Linked DNA regions of Homo sapiens: all the other regions are linked to region 1. The links come from fine-mapping of genetic effects on gene expression. A gene starts in region 1. Each other region holds a variant in brackets. All regions are shown on one strand. Distances are from middle to middle.

What was found.
Region 2: its variant is fine-mapped to the expression of KCNMB1 in whole blood (TOPMed, PIP above 0.99).
Region 3: its variant is fine-mapped to the expression of KCNMB1 in spinal cord (GTEx, PIP above 0.99).
Region 4: its variant is fine-mapped to the expression of KCNMB1 in whole blood (TOPMed, PIP above 0.99).
Region 5: its variant is fine-mapped to the expression of KCNMB1 in whole blood (INTERVAL, PIP above 0.99).

What each region holds. Positions count from the first base shown.
Region 1 is chr5:170,386,719-170,391,820 of GRCh38, reverse strand. KCNMB1 (potassium calcium-activated channel subfamily M regulatory beta subunit 1) reads left to right here and starts at 2,454. Exons shown (of 4, transcript NM_004137.4): 1 at 2,454-2,562. It overlaps KCNIP1-OT1 (KCNIP1 overlapping transcript 1), which reads right to left and starts at 2,328. Exons shown (of 3, transcript NR_109899.1): 1 at 2,218-2,328. It also overlaps a transcript of KCNIP1 not described here. RefSeq lists enhancers at 1-159, 412-912, 913-1,413, 3,338-3,838, 3,839-4,339.
Region 2 is chr5:170,293,408-170,298,509 of GRCh38, reverse strand. LCP2 (lymphocyte cytosolic protein 2) reads left to right here and starts at 733. Exons shown (of 21, transcript NM_005565.5): 1 at 733-976. The coding sequence starts at 899. RefSeq lists an enhancer at 1,551-1,630. The variant G/A (reference allele first, on the strand shown) is at 2,285.
Region 3 is chr5:170,481,745-170,486,846 of GRCh38, reverse strand. It overlaps a transcript of KCNIP1 not described here. Among named protein-coding and RNA genes, the nearest start is that of KCNIP1, 20 kb to the left of the region's middle. RefSeq lists a silencer at 395-561 and an enhancer at 1,377-1,877. The variant A/G (reference allele first, on the strand shown) is at 2,911.
Region 4 is chr5:170,357,398-170,362,499 of GRCh38, reverse strand. It overlaps a transcript of KCNIP1 not described here. Among named protein-coding and RNA genes, the nearest start is that of LINC01366, 29 kb to the right of the region's middle. RefSeq lists an enhancer at 897-1,397. The variant G/A (reference allele first, on the strand shown) is at 2,287.
Region 5 is chr5:170,323,984-170,329,085 of GRCh38, reverse strand. No RefSeq gene overlaps it. Among named protein-coding and RNA genes, the nearest start is that of LINC01366, 4.9 kb to the left of the region's middle. RefSeq lists an enhancer at 1,157-1,256. The variant C/T (reference allele first, on the strand shown) is at 3,105.

The sequences.
Region 1 (5,102 bases):
AACACTGAGGGGCTAGGTATAATTATCTCTATTTTAGAGACAGACAAACTGAAGCTTAGAGAGGCAAAGTAACTTGCTTGGGCAATTTATTTCACCTCTCTGAGGCTCAGTTACTCCCTCTATCAAATGGGTAGAAAAATCTCCACCTCAGTGGTCTATTGTGAGCCTATTGTGCTAGTACCTTAAGAAGCTGTTGGAAGAGTCAGAGAAGATATTTTGTGATCTCTGACACCCCGTACTAATGCAAACCGTCAATATTTATTGTTGCAGCATTGTTATTTTCTTGCCCTCCACCTGTAGCCATCTGTCACACACAACCCCGCAGCCAGCAAAGGACCTGGGTTTTCACCCACAAACCCTCGAGGACAGGGCTTGTCAATGCCTTTTGGTTGTGGCTCATTTAGGGGGAGCAGAAGACCCCACGGCCCCCCTTCCCTGTTTGTTCCCACCTTCCCTTGGGAAGAATGCTAAAGTTTGTTTATGATTTCCAAATAATATGTAGCCCTTAATAACTTATTCAGAGTATCACGAGCAAGGAGCCCTTCGGTTATACTCATAAATGGCAGCCTGTTGCACTGTGTATCTCTCCCCCAGGGAAGCAGGAGGGGGGCCTGGCATTTCTGGATTAGCCCCAGGAGGACTTTTCCTGCTTCTGAGTGGACAGAGGATCATCCTTGGAAAATTGCTCTTCTGAGATTGAATTCCAGATCCTACATCCCTCTGTCAATCTGCCTGCAAGGTCTGAAGCTGGTCTTAGACCCTCTGGTGCTATGGTGCCCATTAAACAGACACTGTAGTCTCCTGTTAATAAGATTCAATTAGGAAAGGGGTGGAGAAGGGCACTCACCGCCTGAGAGTGTGTCAGGGAGGCCTGAGTGGCTGCCTTCATTTCGCGCCTGCTGGAGGCAGGAGGGAGGAAGGTGGTGAGCTCGCTCAGCAGGGAAGGCCAGGCTGCACCCACCTCCCTGGGGGCTGGGGAAACTCAGGGTGACCTCCAGAGCCTCAGGTGGCAGCTTACTGTATGATCGAGGTGATTTTTAATGTCTCAGAGCAGCCCCAGGGTCATCAGAGACAGACCAAGCTGTGCCATCTGGAAGGGCCAGCTTCGAATCTAGTTCTGGCCCCTAGGGTTGCACCAGTGACTTCAAGCCTCCAAGTCTCAGTTTCAGGTTCTTTGATTCTTGGGTCAAGTGAAGGGTGGAGATAAGCTGCCTTCTACCACCACGCCTGATACTTAGGAAAGCCCCAATATCTGGGATTGTTTTTGTTGTTTTGTTGAAAATATATATATATATATATATATTTGTTTTTTTTTTTTGAGACGGGGTCTCGCTCTGTTCAGGCTAGAGTGCAGTGGCACAATCTTGACTCACTGCAACCTCCGCCTCCCAGGTTCAAGCGATTCTCCTGCCTCAGCCTCCCAAGTAGCTGGGACCACAGGCATGCACCACTATGCCCGACTAATTTTTGTATTTTTAGTAGAGATGGGGTTTCGCCATGTTGCCCAGGATGGTCTCAAACTCCTGGGCTTGAGCAATCCATCTACCTTGGCATCCCAAAGTGCTGGGATTATGGGCGTGGGCCACTGTGCCTGCCCTTTGTTGCTGATTTTTAATCCTTACTTCCACTTTACAGATGAAGAAGCAGAGATCTAAAAGCATGTTTTTTGCCTGCAAATGCTGACATTCACTTGTCTTATTGCTAGGAAGAAATCTCTGTACTTTCGCGGTCTCTGGGAGGGCCCCTGGTGAGCAGACTGTCCCTGGACCTGGTTGGAAGCAGTTGTGGAGCTCTCACTACTCCCAGCTTCAGCTCAGTTGGTCCTTAAAAAGTCAGTTCTCTCCCCTTGCCATAAATCCCCACCGTCTCTAACTCCCATCACTACCCTAAAGCAAAGTAGGTTTTAAAAATGCCAGTAACACAAGTGAGAAAACTGAGGTCATTTAACGATAAGTTTGGGAGTAAAACCAAAAACAAAAAAGGAAACTGAGGCCCAGAGAGGTGCCATAACTTGCTCAGGGTCACACAGCACGTAAGTGCCAAAGGCAGGGAGCTGTAGCTGCTCCAGCGTGGATATGCCAGGGACTAGTGACAAGCCCAACCCCTCCAGCCCAACTCCACCCTTCCTCATGCCAACAAAAGGAGAATCATTTCCTATTTCTGGCATCTTTGCCAGCCCACAGAGACAGAGAGAAGAAGAAATATTTCCAAATATACCAGGCTGATCTTTCGTAGTTTCTCAGTCTTGCTGTCTGTTGTTGTTTGAAATCTGTTTCCCACGAGACTCTGGGAAGATGGAGGTGCAGGGCTTGGGTAACAGCTGCCTTCCTCAGGGCTGGGTACCTGCTCTCCGAGTCTGTGTCTCCAGGCTGTGTGCTCAGACTTGACCATGTTTGGGCATGGAGGCTTGCCCCAGATGGGGACCAAAAGCTGCTTCCCTGGAGACGGGCGGGGAGGCCAAACTTCCTGCTGAAGCTCTGTGGCCTCTTTTGGGGTGGGGGCGGGGGTCCAGGCAGAAAGAAACTGTCTGCTGCTCAAGACCCACAGGACGCCGGGAAGACTGTGAGTACCGGGCCTGAAAGCACTTGGGAAGTGATTTCTCTGAAGACCGGGCTGGAGGGAGACAGGGGAAAGCAGCCTGCCACGGGGCAGGGAGGGAGGCAGGCAGGAGGACTCCCTTCCTCTCGGGGCTGTCCTTCTGGATGGAGGGCCCGTGGTCTGGTGGCCAGTGGGGAGGGTGGCACAGTGGCCAGGTTACTCTGGTAGTAAGCGCCCTGGCCCTCTAGGTCCCAGTTCTCAGAGTGGCCAGAAGGCTGCAGCCTGGAGATTAACACCAATGCTGGCACTTGTCACCGGTAGAGAGGTGGGACAAAAATAGATTCATCAAGAGGGGTCCAGACTTCTGCTCCAAACTTTCAGGGTTTCCTTCGTTAGTAGTAATAGCTAATATTTACTGGGGGCTGATTTGGGGCTAGGTGCTATGATACATGTCTGATACTCAATATGGCATTTGATCTTTAGCTGAACTCTCTGAGGCAGGTACCATGGTTCTCGTTTCACAGTCATGTGGTTGCTAAGTGTAAGTGGCAGAGCCAGGATTTGATTCCATGTCTGAGGACCTCAGAATCGCCCTGTCCACACCCCACCAAACTGTTCAACAATGTACTCTATTCCTTGTCCTTCTAAGGAAAAGGATGTCGACCCAGCTATCAGGTCACCCAGGACACTCCAAAGTCCTGCCTTCCTTTGTCCTTCTCCATCTTCTCTGAATCTATCCCAGATCTCAAGTGACCTTTCTAAATGGGAAGATATATCCTGGAACTTCAGAGATATTTAGAAATGCTCAAAACTGGGAAGTTCTTCTTACAGTCTAACTGAAATCCCTCCTATGATAGCTGAAACCCACTTCTTCCTTTTCTTTCTGTCCCTTGGGGGATATTGACAGTTCCCATCCTTCCTCCCGCCAAAGGTTCTCCCTTTGGATGCTGAATACTAACTTCTTGCTGAAGTCATATCTACACTGAACCCCACGCATGGTCTTAGGAGGATTTATCATGACTCTATAAACTCACTCAGTGCAGGCAACAATCTCATCAGACCATTAGAGACGGGTCAGACCTGAATAAGCCAAGTTTCCAGACTTCTCTGTGACAGGGAAGCCTCTCCTTTCCTTTCCTTCTGAGCTCCTAAAACTGGTAAAACCAGGTTCCTGCCTTCACCAGCCTCAGGAGTGCCCAGGGGCCTGAGAGGGCACTAGAAGCCAAATAGCAGAGGAGGCCATGGCCCTGGGCGCTGGGGGGGGCTGATTAGCCAGGAAGGAGCCACAGGAAGCCCCCACAGGTGCGATCCAGTTCCCCCAGGAGAGAAATGGCTTTGTTGTGGGCACTCAGCCCTAGGCTTCCAAGATGGGATTTCCCATTGGCTTCAAATGATTTATGTCTCACAGTATCTGGGGTGGGGCCAAGTGCCAGTGACCCTTGCAGGTCCTGGGGAAGCAGGCTGTTGGGGCTTTTAGCTTACCTCCAGGTGATTCTGTTGCTTTACCTGTGAATACATGGAGAGTCTTGTTCAACTGACGCCAGGTAGAAAAAGGCATGGGCTCTCCCATTCCCACAAGATCACAGAACAGGAGGAAAAGGATTGAATAAAAAGAGTTGAATAAAACATCTCTCTTTGTCGGGGGCAATTTCTGCTTGCTTGTGCTTTTATAATGTCTCCATTAGAATGCAGGAGAAACTCACCTCCTGGTGCCAAATAAAGGAGAAAAAGTTGTCATTGGATGTCACCTCTGCCGATCGATAGGGGAGGTGGACCAGCTCACTGGGAAGGTGTGATGGGTATCCGTGGTGCCTGACCCTGGTCTCTTCCCTTTAGCGGAGATGCCCGGGTATGAGGGCAGCCTGGCTAAGGGGAGGGAGTCAAGAATCTCTGAATATTTGAAACAGTCTAGTAGTTAAGAGACGCCTGAGCAGAAAATAGAGCACTTTGCAGAAAATCTCTTTGGACTAAGGCCTGTCACCCGGACACTGGCTAATTAAACAAACAAAAACCATAATATGTTTATTACTTTAGGGACCTGGCAAGGAGAATAAAGTCCCCCTGATATCTGGCTAAAATTTCCCCTAAATTCCCCTAAAATTTCCCCTAAAATGGAGGATTACATTGATAGCTTCCTGGTATTTTTGGTAGAAATGGACTCTGGTTACTTTAAACAAATAAAAACAACAGCAAATAAATTTACCAGAGGCTCTAGGACAGCTTGCGGAACCATGGGAAATCACGCGGGGACCATGGCTGGGCATCTCTGTGGCTCCAGGCGGCATAGATTGAGGGGCTGTTTCTTGAAGTCTTTGTCAAGACTCACACTCCTGGGGGAGCGATCAGGAGCCTAGCAGGGGAGGGTGGAATCTTTGCTTGCATTGGGGTGGAGTCAATGTCCAGGGGAAAAACAAGGAGTTGCTGCCTAAAGAAAGAGGAGAGAAGGAAAGCAACCACCAGCAGAATGTGCCCATTCTGCTTTGTCCCAGGTGGCTTCAAGCCCTGAAATAAGAAAGCAGTCGCTGAGGCCACCATGATGCCTTCTTTCTTCTTTCTTTGCTTGA
Region 2 (5,102 bases), 93 kb after region 1:
GGAATATATGACACTACCAATAGCAATTGTTAAGTTTTTTTTCTTTTTAATTTTTCTTTTTAGGTTTGTCTAGTTGAATGCATCTAAGTTTTATGTGCATATGAAGAATCACTGTTTTCCTATTATACAGATTTGGAAACTGAGATTCCCAGCTTTTAACTCCTTGCCTAAGGTTGCATAGCACAGAAATAGTCATATCAGAAACTGAGCCCTGTCTGCACAGTGTAGCACCTTGTTCAGCCCTGGGTGCCTGACTCACTCACTCCTTGAGGACCCTCTCATGACAACTGTAAAGAGGCAGCTGAAAGAATCCCAGTCTTTGATGGTGGGAGGGGAAAGTGGTTGGAAAGCATTAAAAAAACATGCTCCAGCAGTTCACTGATGTGGGAAATTGTCTGTATTTCAGGTCAACCGTCAGGATAGATTTTGGTCTGCAAAGCCCCAGCTGAGCAAGAATGCAGTGTAGACATATGGGTGCCCAGAGTTTAAAGGAAAATTACTCAGACTCACATTGGAGTTTAAGACCCCTTCATTGCCTCTCCTACTGGGTTGGGGTGACTGGAGCCAGTGGGGAATTACCAACCCTGTGGCTCTCTCTGCATCTCAAGCCTCCAGAGCTGGGCTTCCTTGTTTACTTATTTAGAGCCCAGCAGAGGAAGTGGTAAAGGAAACTAGCTGAGTCGTTTTCTGAGAAGAGACCATATTTGTTCGCAGAGGAAGCCGTTGCTTTCTGGGATCTGGCTACGCCAGAAAAGACATCGGCTCCAACAGGGGTGTTCCACAGGGTAGCTGGGAGTTGGAAGAGCCAAGAACGCCTCCGAGCTCTGGATTTGAGCTTCTCTGCCCATGGGTGAAGCGCCCATGCTCAGCTTGTGAGCTTCTTCCCGGGAGAGCAGCCATGGCACTGAGGAATGTGCCCTTTCGCTCAGAGGTCCTGGGCTGGGACCCCGACAGCCTTGCTGACTATTTCAAGAAGGTAAGCCTTGCTCTTGTGTGAATGGTCATGATGCTAGTGCCCTTGGTGGGCTGAGCTGAGGCTTGACGATGGAATTGGGGCAGAATGTGGGAGGTGTATAAGATAGCAATGGAACCCTATGGCAACTTTACTGGTTGAGTGAGCGCCATATAGACCGCTGAGTTTTCCTGACCATGAGTTCCGGAGAGAAGGATGGGAGCAGAAGCCCTCAAATGAGTATGTGCCTATTATGTGCTAGGGTTTGAATTCGGTGTCTCACAGGCACTGTCCCATTTAGCGCTCCCTACTATGTTGTGAGGTCAGCATTGTTATCCCCTTGACTCAGCTGCAAAATCAGCTCAGGGAAGTGAAATGGTCCGAAGCCCTAGGGACTACATGTGATAGAGGCAAGACTCAAGCCACACCTATCTGGTTTTAAAGTCCATGCTCTGAGATGCAGAGAACTGTTGTAACTGCTAATGAGATCAACGCTACTTACTAGAAAGGGGAGACGTGGTGTCCTGGAGGCAGGAGAAAGAATAGGCAGGGTGGGAGGGCTGGATAGAGGACTATGATGAGCAGTGCCAGACACAGCATTTGGGCTTTCACTGCTCACGACCCTAAGGGGGGTCCTCAAGCTCCCGCCTGGGGCAGTCTCCTTGGAGCCTTATGAGAGTCTTGTGAAGCAGGACAGAAAACTGATGTGAGCCCCAATTTATAGCTATGAAAACTGAGGCCCCTAGAGGAAAAGAGGCTTGTGGCGGTGCTGGGACCAGAGCGTTGCTGTCTTATCTTCTGGACTTAGAGGAAAGGTTGAAGGATCCCTGTGCTTGGTCATTGGCAGAAGGGGACAACGCATCTGCTTGGGCAGATCTCAAGCCACATGACTTAGTTATAGTCCCTCTACCCTGACCATGTGGTAAGATGACTTGTGCGAGACGGTTAAGCTTCTAACACCCTCATCCCTGCAGGCTGGCATCGGATTCTGTTGATATTCCAGACTGTCATAAAGATGAGATTGTAAAGCTAAGATGGTAGAAGTCATCTAATTCAGCTTCGTGTTTTTCCTGGGGAAATTGAGATTCAAGAGGGTAGACGAGGTTCCCTAGGACGTATAGCCAAACCTGGGGTCTATGCATTTCCGAGGCATTTATAGTCACAGCTGTTCTCCCCCAACCTGAAGAAGAAAATGAGAACATGTTGAACTAGGTGTGGTATGGTAGGGGTACAGTTCACAGATCCTGTTTTTTGCCATATTTTGTGCTTTCATTTCTGTTATTTTCCTTCTGCAAGGTCATAATAAACTTAGATTTCAGCAAATATTGTTGC[G/A]CAACTGGTTTTTTGAAGGATGTTTCTAAATATCTTGCTCAAATATAGACCAAATAAGATAGGGCAACAAGGTAAAATTTGCCAAGAGGGAATAAAGTGGCATGTTACCTTGATAAGGGAAAAAGAAAGGAATTGAGAATTATGAAGAGAAAGACTTGGGACGGGCTGAGAGGCACAGATAGGCCTAACATTCAGGTGTGACCAGGAGAATTATACAATCCAATTGAGCAACAGAGAATTGATCCCTAAAACTCCCATCAGTACAGGGAGATGGACCACGGGTCAGGGATGGTACAGGAAGACCTCACTGCCTGAGCTGGGGGAAGGGAGAGTTTTCTTCCTGGAGATCTCAGACCCCAGGACAAATCTACAGCACCCAGGCAGGTTCCTTCTTCTGCCATAAATGGACTGAGGGAAGAAACTAGGAGACTGAGGCAAATCTGTGATCCTGGAAGTTCTAGTCCCTCCACAGACTTGGATAGAAACCCTTCAGATTCTGAGTACCTCAGCCCCCTGAAAGAAACTACCAAACGAATGGACCGCAGAGTCATTTGGGAATGGATCTTAGCTGTCAAACATGACATGTAAAGAATTGATCTGCAGATGCAAACTCTACCCAAGTAGTGGGGTCAGGCCTCCCTTGGAGACAGCTCTCGACTCAGCTCTGAGGTCGGACACACTTTACCCTGGCTCTGCCACCTGCTAGCTTGGCGACTTTCCTGTAGTTGCTTTGCCTCTCTGTGCCTCAACTTCCTCATCAGTGAAATAGAGATATGAACAGTAACTAACCCAATGGGTTGGTTGTGAGGATTAAAGCAAATGATGTGTGCAAGGCACTCAGCAGACAAATGGATCCTAATGCGTGTTCCTTCTGCCCTTTTACCTTCTCTATTAACTGGCTCCTAGCTGGGGACACCCATGCAGACTGGTGGGACTTTGCGTCTTCTTGTCTCTGACATGGGTACCTCGTCCTGTGTCTGGAATATAAGCTCCTGAGGACAGAGACCATGTTACATATTTGTTCAATCTCTCCAATTCCTTTTGACTTGCAGGAGAACATCCTTGGGTCGTGCAGTGGAGAGGCACTGGCTCAGAGCTGTGTGTCCTAATCCCAGGTGGGGTCCCAGCTGGTATCCCAGCTCACTGTGTGACCTTAGACCAGCCTCTTTCCCTCTAGAGGCCTCAGTCTTCCTTACTACAAATCCAGGTAACTTTTCTGGACCAGTGCCTACCAATGCTGGATGCCATAGGAATCGTCTAGGGTGCTCCTTAAAAATACAGATTTGAGGTCCACAAGCCTAGATCTTGCTGGAGCAGAATCAAATGCCTGGGTCCCAGTCTGCAGGACTCTCTGCTGATCTAGACACAAAGTTAGCACTCTTCAAAATCATCTGGTTTATCTCATAATGATAACAGTGAGAATGATGAATTAAAGGCAGTTGACTCTTCCAAGAACCACTTACCCCCCACTGCCTGTAGATAAAGGGGATACCAGGGCTCCATAGATGGGATGTGCTTTCAATATCAACTTCTAAGTCAGCTTTCTGAGTGTGATAATCATCCCACCCTTCCAAGCTAAGATTTCATAACAATTGTATTTATTCTTTGGATTTGCTAGCTATAAGATAAAAATATGGCTTAAAATGTGCTCCAAAAGAAGGCTGCCACAAACCATGAGGCCCACCCTTGTGAGAAGAACCTAGGATCCTCAAGGAGAAACATTTAACCTCAAATGCTCCACCCCAAAGCAGCAAGTTGAGAGATACTTCAAATGTGAACATTTATGCTGTTGAGGACAAGTTGAAACTAGCACCTCATATGATTGCTGATTGGTCTAGGAAAATAACCAAGATCTTAAAAATGCTCGTTCCTATGGATCCTATATAACTCGGTTCTGAGGTTCTGACTTAAACAATTTATCTCAAAGAGGGAGAAAAAAGTTCGCAAAATAGTATCCATGATTGTCTCTATTTTGATTGGGATGAGGTACTGCAAACAAATGAAGCTGCATTTTCATTTGCTCATTTTACTTACTGTATATAAGTTATGCTGTAATTAAAAGGGGAATATTTCTGAAAGAGACATTAAAGCCTGTTCTGAAACTTGTCACCTAAAACCCATGGAACCTCATGCAAGTTACTTGCTGTCTGTGCCTCTCATTCCCCATCTGCAAAATGTGAGGGTTAAATGATTGAAGACTAGTTTAACTACTTGGTACACTGCCTGCCACACAGAAAGCTTTCGATAATTGTTCGCCGTTTTTATTATCATTATTGAAACAGCAGCTTGGTAAATAATCTAAATGTTCAGCAATAAGGGCATGATTAAATAATGTTGTGGTCATTAAAATTATTTTAAATTGAGTTTGCATAACACTAGGCAGTGTTTATATTATCCCTTTAGGTAATTTAAGAGAAAAAAGTCAGAATAATGAGATTGAATATAAATCATAACCTCAATTATGTTTAGAAACATGCTAGGAAGAAAGCATGGAAAGAAACACCGAGGTCGTCTCTGGGCATCGAGACAATGGATGGTATTTCTTTTCTTCTTTTAGCTCTCCTTCCTGAGGAGCATAGGGCAGAGCTCTGCATGCCTTGAAGGCAGTCTTTCTGTAAGGGTTGGCCCCGAAGCCTTAGAGCAAGGCAATTTCTCCATTTCAGGCAGTCCCAAGGGGGTAGTGAAAGCGAGGCTGAGGTGGGGACTGGGCCCTCTGTTAGCCAAGGGAGGGCAGTGGGGAGCCTGGCTAGCCACAAGTACCGCAAAGTGCTAAGTTTCTGGGGCAGGCAAGGGAGAGGAACCAATGGTAAGAGACTGC
Region 3 (5,102 bases), 95 kb before region 1:
GTGTGCTCAGGGTGGCAGGTACAGGCTGGGGAGGAAAGAAAGCTGGCTGGGGCAGGCAGGGCCCAGACAATGGCTAACCTTGACTATCAAGCTGTGGCCCTCTCTTGCCTGCAGGATAGCAAATCTTAGTTGGGTTATTTTTGATTGCAAAAACCAGAAACTGACTCTGGCTGAAGAAGCTATGAGAAGGGTATGGGGCTCACACACCCAGAAAATGCTTAAGAACCAAATCCAGAAACTGGCAGGAGCCAGGGAAATCCCAGAAATCTTGGCAGCAGGAACTCATTACTTGGATTTCTTAAGGATAAATCAGTTGCCACCACTTTTTGTTCTTGATTCCTCTGGTCAAAATGCAGGATCTCAGGAAAGACAATGTGATTGGTCACATGTGAGTCCACGTGCCCAACCCTTGCACCGGAGTGCAAGGCAGAACCCCTTGTTTGAAATTTCTGCCAGTTGGGTGGTGTCTGCGGCTGCTGCTGGGAAAATGGGGAGTAGAGGCTTGCAGGTAGATCAGCTGGAATACATGGCACAGGTGACACTGGAATCCCTGACCTGCTAATGAATGAAAACAGGGCCTGATGTCCACTGAGTTGAGCAACAGGGCCTTTGTTACTGCAAGGACGTTGTCCCCACCTCCGGCTGTGTTAGGATCACAGAACACCTGTCACCAGGGAACAGAGCTTTTTCGCAGGTCCCTGATGTTTGTAGCTGTGTGACCTTAGTCAACACGCTCAGCCTCTCTGAAATGCAACATCTGGGGGAAAAAATGAAAGAAAAATGAAGCAAAAAGAAGAAGAAGAAGAAGGAGGAGGAGGAAGAGGAGAAAGGTAATGTCCTCATCTGTTTGGGACAGGCCATTTTACGCACCTTCTGGGCTTCTTAGGACGATAAAATGAGAAAACGCGTGGGGTGACGTCTGGCCCAGCGTCTGATGATTCAAATGCTCTGTCCCTCCAGTCTTGATGATGCTGAGTCTAGAGGAAGGGCAAAAGCAGCCTTTTCCAGTCTGTTTTCAATTAGTTTGAGCCCAGCTGGGGCTGGGGCTGGGGCTGGGGGTCCTTGGGCTGGGCTGGGTTGATCTTTCCTTGGGCTCCCTATTTTCTCCTCCTCCTTCCTGTGCCAGGCCCAGAGGCAGCCTGGAGGCCTTGGCCTTCCTCTGAGATCATGTCATCAGCAGCCCCTCTCCCTGGCCCCTTTGGGAAGGGAAGTGAAGCTCAGCCCTGAGAGGCGGAGGGTGGGCCTGGTGGAGACTCAGAGCTGCCCTAGCTCCCTTGATGATTCCTGGAGGCACTTCGCAGAATAGGGTTTATGAATCCTCATGACCCTGAAGGTGGGCCATGTGTCTGTGTGTGAGTCTAGGCATGCTGTTGACTCACAGGGCTCAGCTCTGGGCCACCAGCCACCCTCCCCGTCCACACCCTGGGCCCAGAGCTGGGCTCTGTGGGCTTGAGTTTGGGATGTGGAGAGGTGTGGTGAAGGAAGGAGCAAAGGTTTTATCCTTAAGAAATCCAGCTGAGGGAGGGAGGATGGGACTCCCTTCCAGGCCCAAGACCAGAGGCCCAGGCCAGGCCAGGGTTGTGTAGGGGGATGAAAGACCTAGATCTGGCTGGGTGCGGTGGCTTACACCTATAATCCTGGCACTTTGAGAGGCCGAGGCAGGCAGATCACCTGAGGTCGGGAGCTTGAGACTAGCCTGACCAACATGGAGAAATCCCGTCTCTACTAAAAATACAAAATTAGCCGGGCGTGGTGGCGCATGACTGTAATCGCAGCTACTCAGGAGGCTGAGGCAAGAGAATTGCTTGAAACTAGGAGGCAGAGATTGCAGTGAGTGGAGATTGCGCCACTGCACTCCAGCCTGGGCAACAAGAGTGAAACTCCATCTCAAAAAAAAAAAAAAAGAAAAAAGAAAAAACAAAAAAAAGAAAGACCCAGCTCTGAGCCCACTGGGTGTGGCTACAGAGAGGGAGGGTGGCAAATGGAAGAAGATGTGGAGAGGGCAGATAAGTGAGCCAGAGACACGGAAGGAAGAAGGGAGAAGCAGAACGCAGAGAGAGGGTGGAAAGGTGGAGGAGGGTTTGAGAGGCAAAGGGCGAAAAGGAGCCTGGCTAAGAGAGATTTGGGAAAGGAAGAGAGGGAGAGGGAAAGAGGGAGGAGAGAGAGAAGGGGAGGGGGAAACGGGTAGAGAGAAGGACATGTTGAGAGGAGAAGAGAAAGAGAATGGCAACAGAAAGAGAAGAGGAAGAAAAGACGAATGGGTAGACAGAAACAGAACAGAGCAATGGAATGAAAAAAGGAGAGACAAGGTGGGGAGCACACAGCCTTGGAGGGAGAGAGGATGCCAGAGGGAGGCCCGGCAGCCACCAGGCTCTTTCCAGCTTCCCCAACGTGCGATGGAGGGCGTGCTGGCTGGGAGTCACCTGCCAGCCTCCTGGAGGGCCTGCACCTGATCAGCTTGTTTTCGCCATCTGAAGCTCTAAATGGTCTATTATCACAGAGAGAGCTCTTCACGTGTTTCCTCCCACCGCCGCCCCCGAGGAACACGTGCTGTATTTGTGAGGTGACTCATCTGGCTGCCACAACCTCTGGGATCCCAGGCAGAATGCACGTTAGGAGTTCACCTTCAATTGGCCACAGGGCGGAGGAGACGAGGCCTCAGTGGGGAGAGGGTGTGGAAGGAGCAACTTGGATGTGCCAGTCTTCTATCCTGTGGGGGTCGGGCTGATGCAGATGGCCAGCGGGATGCTCTGTGGGGGGATGGCATGATGTGAGTGCCCCCTGCTCCCTGGTGCCTTTTTTAGGCTGCCAGTCTCACCGAGGGACCTGAGAACTTGTCTAAGAAATTCCTGTTTCTCTTGGCAGCAAAGTGATGAGGTGGAGAATGGACACTCTCTCTCCCTTCTGGCC[A/G]CAACTCAATTCCCCCAGGCTGTCTAAGTGCATCCTACTTCTCCTTTGTCACATTCATCAGTCATCACGTCACACTCATTGTGAAGTATTCTCATTATCATTGCGTCTTGCATGCCAGTAGACTGAAAGCTCCCTGACTGCAGAATGAACCAACGAATGAACCTATTTGCACCTATTTGGGAATCTACTTGCACCTATTTGGGAATCTACAGATGCTGCGTTTTTATCCCATGGAGGTATTTTTGACAACCATAAGGAAGGTGAAGTTCAGAGACAGGCAGCCACTAACTTGCAGGATACAGCTGTAAAGATGAGTGGGGGATTTAACCAACCCAAATGTGACTGATTGTAGAGTTGTCCCAACCATCTGGAACCTTGCGGCCCCACACAGATCACCATTGACATGCATTACCCAAGTTATGGAGTGATTGGTACTCTCTTCTTGCATGTTAACCCAATACAACCAGCCAGATATCCTTAAAGAAAAAGAAGCGAGAGGGGCTGTAGCAGACAGGAGATGTGGTCTTAAAATGGAGAGGATGGCTAGGTCCACTTTAAGGGGATTTAGAAGGTGACTGCAGATCTGTGCAATATCCCAGTGATGGTCACTAGAGAGTGCAGGAGTTGCATCTCCTCCTGGGGAGGGAATGTTGGCTTTCATCTTTTTAGTCCAAAGGTCCCCAGCCTGGGATCACCCTAGGGTGTTCCCACCACCCTGGGTTCCTCTTGCCTCATAGTTACCTATGATTTTCAGGCCTGGATGAGAGGCAGGGCGAGTGAGCTCCATGGAAATACCTGTCTCCACAGCCTGCAGGTGCACACACGTACTGCCCAAGCTATCCGGCTCTGCGGGCCCCAGTTCCACTTTTGACTCCATCTGTCCTTGGAAACAAAAGGGAAGAAAGGCTGTTTCTTCCACCTCATACTTTAATTTAAAATTTAGGCTATGTTTTCTAGGGATGCATGGAATCTAGTCATGACCTATTTGAAATACTGAAAGACCAGATAAAACCTCTCAGGACAGAAGGGGTGGGACAATAGCACCAAAATGCTTCTCCTGATAATTGTCCCAAACTCATACCTCTAAACATCACCAGCGCTGTTTCAGTGGAAGGCAGAATTGGTGGAAGAAGGCTGTGGAAGTTATTATAATTTTGGAGCTAATAAAAACCTCTCTCAGACAGGCTTGGCCTTGGACGTTACTTGACTCCCACAGCATACCAGATGAAATCTGGTCTCTGGGGACTTTTAAATCATCAATACCCAAGCCTCAGCAAAGACAAATTACATAAGAATGTCTGGGAGCTATGGCTTTTGGGGAGAGTGATTCCTCAAAACACTAACATCAGATATATCTAATTCCAGGCTCTGCCACCGCTCATCTGTGAGTCCTAGAGAAATCACTTCAGTTACTTGATCCGTGGTTTCCCCAAAAGTAAAATGAAGCAAATCATGGTGCAAATTTCATGGGGCTGTTGTAAGGGTTTTATGATATAATAGCTGCAAAAGGCCCCGTACTGTGCCTGGCACACATTAGGGATTCAAACATTGGCCATTGTAATTTTACTGTTATTATTCTTATTGATAAATATTGACTAATCGCTGGCTAAAATTATACCCTTCTTTGAACCCTGGGGAAAGTATATGAACTTGATGGTAGATGGGCACTGCTGGGGGAAGATTAATGGAGGTGTCCTGTGCTGCCTAAATAATAAATCTCTTCTCAAAGTGGACTCCAAGCAGAAGTGTCTTTCCTGTTATCAGCTGGTTGGAAAATATTAATATCACCCACATTCTCAATTGGCCTAAAACACCACCACTAGAGGAAATGCTAACATGGCTGGCTTGGTTTAAGACATAGACTGCAAAGCATCCCGTAACCACAGCCAACATTCTGTTAATCTTATCAGAGGGAAGCAGAATGCTTTAGCAGCTGATGGAGGGCAGGGATTTAAAGAATTCACTTTACTACCTACAGAAACAAAGAACAAGACTTGGAAACGGGGGCTCAGAAGCAAGAAGGGATGATTTCAGTTCTGATATGACCATACAGACCACTCAGGGAAAAACCCACCATGGATGAGTTCCTTCTTGTCACTATGAAATAAACTATAAAGAGCGATTGCTATAAAGCATGGGTGGGGTCATTCTCAATATTTCTTTCTGTCAAGGTAATAAATCCCAAATTCATA
Region 4 (5,102 bases), 29 kb after region 1:
GATCGGGGAGCTTGAGTCTCAGAGGGCATTCTCCTCAATTGCACTTCCTCAGTCAGAATGGAGGTCCTGAAGTCTTGATTTCGAAAACAAGAGTGTGTGTTGCCTCTTGGCCAAACTGGGAAGGAATCTGTTTTGTCTTCGTTGCTTCTTACCCTGGATCTGATTTTCAGAAATGGAAAGAGTGTACTGGGGATGGGCTGGGGAGGGAAGTAAAACCCAGGGCTTGGGGCCAGACCGCCTAGGCTTCCAGTTGTGGCTATGCTTCATGCTGGCTGTGTGACTCCAAGCAGGCCGGTCCCCCGTCTGAAGCTCGCTCTTTATATCTGTAAGTGGGGTTAATTAGAGCACTCCACCTCCTAGGTTTCTCATGTGCACTAAATAAAATATTGGGCATGGAGTGCTCAGGCAATGCTGGGCACATGGCAGGTGCCACCAGCAGTGCTGCAATTTTGTTTAATCTTTAAATTCCAAAGCTGAAAGAGGCCTTTGAAATCAGCAGCTCCTTCATTTTAGAGATGAAGAGACTGAAGCCCAGAAAAAAAAGCCATTTACTTAGTGCAATGGGCTGAATATTTGTGCCTCCCGTCCCCCAAATTCACATGTTGAAATCCCACTCCTGAGGTGATGGTATTTGAAGGTGGGGCCTTTGGGAGGTGATGAGGTCATGAAGGCGGAGCCTCTTGAATGGGGTGTGTCTATAAGAAGAGGCCAGAGAGCTAGCTTACTCTCTTTCCTCCACGTCAGAATACAGCAGGAGATGCTGTCTGTAAGCCAGGAAGAGTCCCCACGAGAAGTCCACAGTGCTAGCATCCTGATCTCAGACTTCCAGCTTCCAGAACTGTGAGAAATACATTTCTGTTGTTGATAAGCCACCGTGTCTTTGTATGGTAGCTTAGGCCATCAGGTTGATAAGCAGCCTGATGGCCTAAGACAGCAAGCAGTTGTGAGGATTTGGACTCAAACCCAGGTCTGGCTCCAAAGCGGGTGTTCTTCTAAGAACACAAAATGGAATCTCAGTGGCTTCAGCCAGAGGGGACCAAGGTTAGCTTTGTGTTCATGGTCCTCCTCCCCTCATCCTAACAGAGAAGGAAGGCTTTCTTCTGCCCCTAGACTGAAGACCTGTGACAGAGAGCGTGGTCAGTGGTGATAGTAAATGACTTCCCATGAGTCTTTTTCAGGAGTCCTGGCCTTTCTTTCCTCCAGCTGGCCCGGGAGGCCTATGCAATTTCCTCATTTCCACATCCTCTCCCCCAAAGCTCCTCTCCCCTGCTGCCTGCCTTTCAGTGGGGTCCCTCCTCCTGCACTTCTGGGTGGGGTGCAGGTGGACAACGGGGAAGAACCGCCGCCTCACCTGAGCACCTGGCCAGCTGTGATGCATAGGCAGTGTGGGCCTGCACCCAGGGGCAGTCCCCCAGCAGAGCATGAGAGCGGAATGGGGGCAGGAACAGGCCTTTGGTCTTGTTTGCACTGACCCTTGTCTCATCCAGGTCGTTCTGGCTGGTCACTGCTGTCAAACTCCAGCACAGGAATTCAGACAAGGGAGATAGGGAGTGGTAGGCTCCAGAGCAAGCCTGACTAAGACCAGACCTCAAAAAGGGAACTCCAGCCACATGGCCTGATGTTGCTCGGCAGGGAAAGCATTTAGTCGTTATTTATTCAACCTTCCTTCCTCGGCTGCAGGTGCTTGAGGCACTCACTCTAGGTGATTCCCACGTGGTGAACGTGGTGAACGCTTTCACAGGGCTCCCATTCTCATGAGAATGGATGACCAATTCTCCCATGAACAACTAAATAAAAAGGATCATTTCCATTGTTGGCACATTTTTAATTATAGAACTTGTCATCAAGAGTGACTGGGGGCAGGGGGGATAATTTTGAAATAGCAGCACATCTGGATAGGAGCTGGGAAGAGGACTTGACCCACAGAGGCTCAGCCTTGTTTCTCTTGGCTACAAATCCAAGGTCGTATCATAGAAAAGAAGGGTGGGGAACTTGACTTTTACTGAGCAGCTTGTATGAGCCAGGTCCTGTGCCTGTCACATGTCCCATCTCATTCCATCTCCAGTAGCCACATGAGATGGAAATTACTGGCCCATTTACGGAAGGACACAGACTCAAGATGGGGAATGGCTTGCCCAAGGCTGTCCTGTTGGTGCATGGCAGGGTTGGAGCCCAGGTCCCTCTGGGTCCAGAGTTTTCCCGCCCTGCATCCTGCTTCCTTCCACAGTGACTTCACATCGCCACTTCCACCCTTGGGAAGCAAAGGCTTTCAGGGATTTGGGACCT[G/A]GGTCTGCTGAGAGAGATGGCCCAGGGGAGATTCTGTAACCCTAAGAAGACTGGGGAAGATGAGGGTCCCTGTGGCATGGCAAAGGAGGCCCTGGACTTAGAAGGCTGATGAAGACCTGACTAGATCCACTTCTCCCAGGGCTGTGGTGTGGCAGCCTGAACTCTCCTGCCTGCCAGAGGGCCCCGTTTCCAGCTACTTTTAATTTGGAGCAAACTAGCCGCTCCCCTGTGGTCCTGAAGTTAATAGGATGTCTGTGCAGCAGTGCCAGGATAAATGGCCCTGAACAAATTACTCCTGCATGGTAACAGGGTTATCTAGGAGAAAGACCCGGAGGCTCCAGAGGGGCAGGTGATCCCTCCTTCTTCTCTGCCTTCTACTGTGGGACTATGGAGACCCTAGTGAGCTGAGCACCTGAACAACCCAAATGGGTCAGGGAATGCTGGGCCTGCTGCAGAGGGGCAAGGGTGGTGAGGCCAGTAGGCTGGGATGAAGGCTACTGGACATCAGGAGGGCCAAGGTGAACACATGCCCCTCCTGGCAGGCTCTAGCTTGGGGCTGGAGAGGTAGGCAGGGACCCAGAAGCCCTGGATAATCAAACTTTCTTCCTGTGACAAAGCACTGGCACTCAGAGGTTCCAGGGTTGCAGAGAGTGAGTGGGGCTGTTGTAACATGACCAGAGTGCTTGCTCAGCCCCTCACTGCCAGGACAGTGAGCGAGCCAGGACTCGGATGGTGGGGACTCTCTTTCCCCAGCAAGGGGCAGCATTGAAGCTTAGCTTTTCATGGGACAGGTGGCATTCTCCTCTTGGTAGAGGGATGATGATATCTCACAGGTCTCAAAGTCCCCAGTGTGAAGGCTTCTGCTTTCCCAGACAATTCCAGTAAACAGCTGCAACACCTCAATTCCAGCCTGCCTAGTGTCCAAAACTTTGTGTGTATTTTCCCACACCCAAGAACACTTCTCACACTTGGCCTGTAAGAAGGGAGAGCCATGGGGGAGTGGCCCTCATGGGACAGAGCCTACTCAGTGTCTGGCAGGTGCTTTGGGCCTGCACACCTGCCTGAGAGGTGATAGGGATACTGAGAGAGCATGGGTATGGCTGTCCTGCTGATCTTGGCCTCTGGAGTGTTCCCTTTCCCCATAACCCAGGTGATGACACTTTATGGAATTTGTCACAACCCTTTGCATGACAGGTGGCTGCTCTGATCAGACCCAGCAGGGAAAAACCCACCAACAGAATTAGTGGGACGCTGGGGGACTCTCTGCTGGTGGCAAGGTGGGGAGTAGTGCAGGCAGGCGTGACTTCTCCAGCCCTAGGAGTGCAGAGGAATGTACCTTGTCTTGGCTGCAGCAAGACCTGGGTTCTAATCCCAGCTCTGCCACTCACCAGGGGAGCCACGACACTTAGCTAAACCCCAGTTTCCTTACCTGCTGAAATGGTGATTGCAATCCCTACCTCCAGGATCAAGACTAGAAAGAGGCAAGGAAGGTGCCTAGGGCACAAAATGTAAGCGGGGGCGGGTGCCCTGCAAGAGCAGAGTTGGGATTTGCCTGTGAGCTGATATCTCTTACTCATATCATCATTACATTAAAAAACAGCCTTGTGCCATTGATATTATTATTATCTCCAATTAAAAGTGGGGAGCCTTGGCTTGGGGTGGTGTTCAAATGACACAACTTCACACAGCTGGTAAGAGGCAGAGTTGGTACTCCAGCCTGGCCTGCTTGAAGGCAGAGTCCATGCCCGGGTCCAAGGTCAGTCTCTTGAGGATCTTGAACAGCAGTGGGAGGAGGCAAGAGGAACAGTGTGTCACTGATGGGGCAGCTGAGGTTTTGCCTCGAAAAAAGAGGAACAGCCTGGGCCTGGGCGGGAGGGGAGAGTTACGGCTCCAGGGCCTTGTCCTTGAGATAGATCTCATCTTCCCACACCCCTTTTCCCCACCCCCGCAGCCTCATGGGTGGCCTGGAGGACACTAGAAGCTCTCCTGGATTGGATTCCTCCCTTCTGCTCACTTTGGCTCTGTCATCTGTGCCTGGGGTAACATTTGTTCCCAGTGCAGAAGGAGATGAGTTTAAACCTCCCCAGCCAGAATGGAGCCTGCACAACTTCTGGTTCCTGCCAGCGGCCCCCAGGAAGTCTGTGAGGCGGGTGGAGGGGAGCTGACTGTGCAGAAAGAGGAAGACGCAGGTTCCCCAGACCCCTGATTTCACCAAGCATCCGAGCCAGGAGCTGGGCTTCTCCTAGGTTAAACAGCAGGCGAGGACCTGGCTCTGGGAGTCAGGCTTTTAACTCCTAATAAGGAATCAGGTGAGGGAGATGGCTCTGGGTAGGCCCTTAAGAAAACAAGTTGAGCAGAGGGGAAGCAGTGGTCTAAAGTCATCCAGTGGCTGGACGTGGTGGCTCATGCCTGTAATCCCAGCACTTTGGGAGCCCAAGGCAGGAGGGTCTCTTGAGCCAGGAGTTTGACATCAACCTGGGCAACATAGTGAGACCCTGTCTCTATAAACAGTCAAAATTAGCTGGTTGTGGTGGTGCACATGTGTGGTCTCAGCTATTTAGGAGGCTGAGGTGGGAGGATTGCTTGAGCCCAGAAAGTCGAGGCTGCAGTGAGCCGTGATTGCATCACTGCACTCAGCCTGGGGAACAGAATGAGACCCTGCCTCAAAATAAATAAATAAATAAAGTCATGCAGTAACTGACAAGGCCATAGGCTTTCATAAAGTGATCATGAGATGTTGCTCTTAGAATCTGTGCCTGGTGCTGAGAAAACAAGTAATGAGTGAGAGGGAGTCCCAGCCCGGAGGGGCTCTCAAC
Region 5 (5,102 bases), 63 kb after region 1:
CCTCAATAATTATTTGTTGAAGAAAGGAACAAAAGGAGAGCACAGGGAAAAGTAAAGCTGGCAAGATTGACCTGTGCTGGGTACTGCTGGGCTAAGGAATGTAGATGCTAGTCAGAGGAAAATGGACCATCACAGAAGGGTTGATGAGATGCATGTTTCTGATGGTCACCCTGCTAAGCACAGGAACTGTGTTGGGGAAAGTCCAGGAAGTGGCAGGAATAGACAGAGTGGACTATGGCTATGGTCCGAGTGTGGGATGTTGAGGACCTGAGCTAATCAGGATAGTGTACGTGAAAAGGTAAAGAGGGATTCTAGAGACTTGAGGAAGGTAGAACTAGAGTGCTATCCATGGTTCCATATGGATGAAGAAGGGAAGAGGGAGGGAATATAAAGAGAAGAATTTTCCATGCCCCTGCTGGAATGACTAGATGCTAGCCACTGGAATACAAAATGTATGGGGTGGGGTTCACCATGAAGCTAATGAAGGTTATGTGCGAGAATCCCTCCCTTTCACATCCACTATCAAGGTCCTAAACCTACTCTTGTATTCATTGTTTTCTTTTTATTTATTTTTTCCTAAAGAGCCCCTTCCTGGCCAATTATAGAATCCTCAGGCTCCACCAAGCCTGGATCTTCCCCTGGAAATACAAGGAGAACAGTTTGGGGGAAAGGATTCCATTTGGATTGTGAATTCCATTTGGGGCATGGTAGGTTAGAGGTGGATGAAAAACCTTGAGGTGGAGATGTTCTGCAAGGAGCACAGTGTGGGACAGGGCTTGAATCCTGGCTTCATGCTGTGTGGACATGGGCAAGTTGTTTGAGCTCTGTGCTCAGTAAAATGGGATGTTAATGATAGTACACCCTGATAGGGTTGTAAAGATTAGATGAGACAACATAGGTCAAATGCTTAGAACAGTGCCTAGCACATAGTGAGTGTTGAAAACAAGTTGCGTGTTGGCTTTTGGTATTCTGTGGGGCAGTGTATATCTGAGAGTCACTGGAGTTGAGGGTGGCCTTGGGGGGAGTTGGATTGTGTAGCAAGAGTGTATTAGGGCTTGATATGAGGAAGACCAAGGACAGAGCTCTGATATTTATCAGGGTGAGCAGAGGAAGAGGAACCAGCAAAGGAGGCTGACGAGGACTAGCCAAAGGGGTCCTGGAAGCCAGGGGAGGGGAGAATACCAAGCAGACACTCAGTCATGGGTGTCACCTGCTGCTAAAAGTCTAGCAAGAAGGTGACCACAAGAGGCTGCTGGCATGGGTTTTGGGGACATCTCAGTGACCTTGTCAGAGGGCTCTCGGTGGAGAGTTGGGTACTGAGGAATGAAAGTCCCATGCAGACGACAGGTGTAGATGGTCTTCTGCAGAACCTTGGCTTTGGGAAAAGACAGGAGGCAAGAGGCAGAGGAGAACAGAGGCAGAGAGAAGGTGTTAGGGTGGTTGATTTGTTTTGCTTTGGGAGGACATGATTCACTGTTTAAAGATGAGATTCACAGGCTTTGGGGGCTGTGATGAAGAGTTGGTGTGTAAAGTTTAACAATTTGAGGAAGAAATAAAATAATTGATTAAAAAAAAAGTGAATGCCTTGAAAGAATTAGGAAGGGGAGGAACAAGTGACACAATAAGTGGCCAACCCTGAACTGCTCTCTGAGTCTCGAAGGAAGGGGGCAAGGGTGGGAAGGTTATAAATAAGCTTCTAGGTAGGAGGACAGGAAATGGGGCAGTTATGCCTGATAGCCTCAGGTTTGTTGCTGTGAAGTAGGAGGATAGATCATCTGCAGAAACATAAATACACAGCTTCTCCCACACCGTGGGCACTTAGGACAAATTATGATTACGAAACTTAAAATCTCAAGGGAATATTAGGGTTAGAGGAACCCGAGTTGATGGTAAAGTTATTAATATCCCTACAAATTGTTTTACTTCGATTAATATAAAGCAGTGAACAAAGCATACCGAGTAAAAACAACCTCAGAGGCAATTTGCACATCTTTGTTAGTGCTCTACCGTTAATTTTAATTTGCAAACCTTTGTTTGCTTGTAGGTGCTTGAAGCATTTCAGGATCTTCCTACCCTGAAGTTTCAACTTACAAATAAATGCTAGCTAATAAATAAAGTTATGAATCATTTCAAACTTACAATGAAGTTGAAAGAATCTTACGATTAACACCAATATACACACAACCTTGGTTCAACCATTAATGTTTTACTAAGCTTGTTTATTTAAATAAACCTTTTAACTACAAAAAGGAAAATTACAAAAGTACAGAGTTCCCATATACTTCCTAGCCTGTTTCCCTTATTATTAAAATCTTATATTAGTATGATACATTTGTAATAACTAATTAACTAATATTGGTGTGTTATTAACTAAAATCCATACTTTAAGTGGTGCGATCTCAGCTCACTGCAACCTCCGCCTCCCAGGTTAAAGCAATTCTTCTGCCTCTGCCTCCTGAGTAGCTGGGATTACAGGCACATGCCACCAGGCCTGGCTAATTTTTTGTATTTTTAGTAGAGACAGGATTTCACCATGTTGGCCAGGGTGGTCTTCAACTCCTGACCTTGGAGGTGTACTTACAAGGTATTTCATAGAATGTCCCTCAGTTGGGATTTGTCTGATGATTTTCTGGCAATTACACTGTGGATGTGGATTTTTAGAAGAAAGACCGCAGAGGTAAAGTGCTTTTCTCATCTCATATCAAGGATACACACTGTCCACATGTCATCGCTCTTGTTGACCTTGATCACCTGGCTGAGGTAGTGCTGGTCAGGTTCTCCACTGTGAAGTTACACTTTTTCCTTCCTTTCCATGTGTACTTTTTGAAAGGAAGTTACTAGGTGCATCCCACAGTTCAAAAAACTTAATGAGGAATTACGCGTCACCTCCTTGAGGGTGTAAATTTGTATTTTTTTTAATCACGTATCTATCCATCAATTAGCTATTCCTTTACCCATCCATCAATTCATCTTACTTTTTTAGACGTTTAAAAATAAGTTTGCAGATTTATATTATTTTGTTGCAGGCAACACATATGCTAAGGCACTTTGTTTCTGCGCCTCATCTGGTCCTCAAACCAAATGTCAATTCTTTTTAGGTTGTA[C/T]ACAGTTTCTGGGTTCTGCCTCCTGGGCCTCCACTGGAGTCAGAATCACCCACAAAAAGTCCTAGATTGTGAAAAAGATACCAAACCTGGGGTATTTGTTCTATTATTTGGAAACTGGTAGACATTTCTCAAGGCCCCTTTCCAGTCCCCAAGGTTAGTGGTCTCAGCTTTGCCATGTTGACATCTTGTTCAACACTCTGGGTGGTGCCCCACACACTCGCTGCCTGAAGGCCATCCTCTCTCTCCTGTTCTTCCATGTCTTCCAGGGCTTTAATGCAATAATTAAAAAGTAATAAACCTCCATTCCTCCTTTTCTTCTGCTGACCTTCCATTTCCATTCTCGGTTCCTAGTTTCCTTTTTTGCTAATTATCCCCATCCAGAGGGACACTTCATTCACACCCTGAAACTGAAATTCTTCACTTCCCAATACATTGGAATATATTAGACTTTCTAGTACTTCATATAAAGTAAATTCAGGGTTGTAGATACAACATTGCTGCATTTTATACTATATATATATATATATATATATATATAAAATAGCTATAGTGTTATACATTTTGCAAATATGCCAAATTAGATATTTTGTGCCAGAGTGCAAATAGCTGCATGGGAATAGCCCAGTAAGTAAAATAACTGAAGGCTGTTAAACGTGATATGAGTCTGGTAAATTCTTGCCTAAGTGGAAACCACTTTAGAAACTTTTCTGTTTTCCAGTCAACAATGTATTTCTTTGTTGATGCTCATCACACTTAACTTTTTTCATGTATTTTGTCTTTCCTTATACCTTCCTCCTCCATCATATTGCCTTCTCCACAAGAATTGGTTGTGTGCTGGTTAGAACAACCCATAATGACTGGCTGGTTGGGTGGATGCCTTGATGGATGGATAAATGTAAGTTCCAGATGTTTTTAAAGAATCATCTAACCTCTTGCTTGTACCATGTAGTCATCTGTCCTCAATTCAGAGGTACTGGTAGTGATGGCTGACCACCATCACTGTAGTATTACTTCAGGACTTAAAAAATGTTGTTTACTAAACTAACATATAGTAACGTTGACTTTTTTGTGTGTACAGGTCTATGAATTTTAATGTCTAGATTTGTGTAACTACCACCACAATTGGGATACAGAACAGGTTCTGTCACCCCAAAAATCTCCCTTGTGCTAATCCTTGGCAGCTGTGCTCTCCCCAACCCCTAGCCCTTGGCGATCACTGTTCTGCTCTCCATCACTCTAGTTTTGTCTTTTTTAAGAATGTCTTATAAATGTACCCCTTTAAAACTGGCTCTGTTCACCCAGTATAATACCTTCGAGATTCACCCCAGGTGTTGAGTGTATCAATTGTTCACTCTTTTATTGCAGAGTAGCATTCCATGGTAAAGATGTGCTACCATTTATCCATTTACCAACAGAAAGACATTTGGATTATTTACAGTTTTTGGTGATTGTGAGTAGAACTGCTATAAACATTCACACACTGGTTTTTGTGTGGACATACGTTTTCATTTCTCAAGGATAGCTACCTAAAAATGAGAATGCTGGTTCACATGATAAGTGAATGCTTAACTTTATGAGAAACTACAAAGCTGTTTTCCAGAGTGGTGTACCATGTGCATTTTCACCAGCAATATGTAAGAGTTCCAGTTGCTTCCAATCCTCACTAGCACATGGTTTTGTCAGTATTTTTAATGTACTTAGGGTATGTAGCAGCATTTCATCATGGTTTTAATTTCCACTTCCCTAAAGGCTAATAATATCAAACATCTCTTCATATGCTTATGTGATGTCTGTAGGTTCTCTTTGATGAAGTGTTTGGTCAAGTCTTTTTATCCATTTTTAACTTGGGTCTTTGTTTTCTTACTGTGGCATTTTGAGCTTATTTATATATCCTGGTTATGAATCTGGGCCATTATCTTGAAAGACACAATCCCGAATGCCATAATCTCAAATGTTGAAATCTCCAAAGATAAGAATCCCTAAAGTCTAAAATCCTGA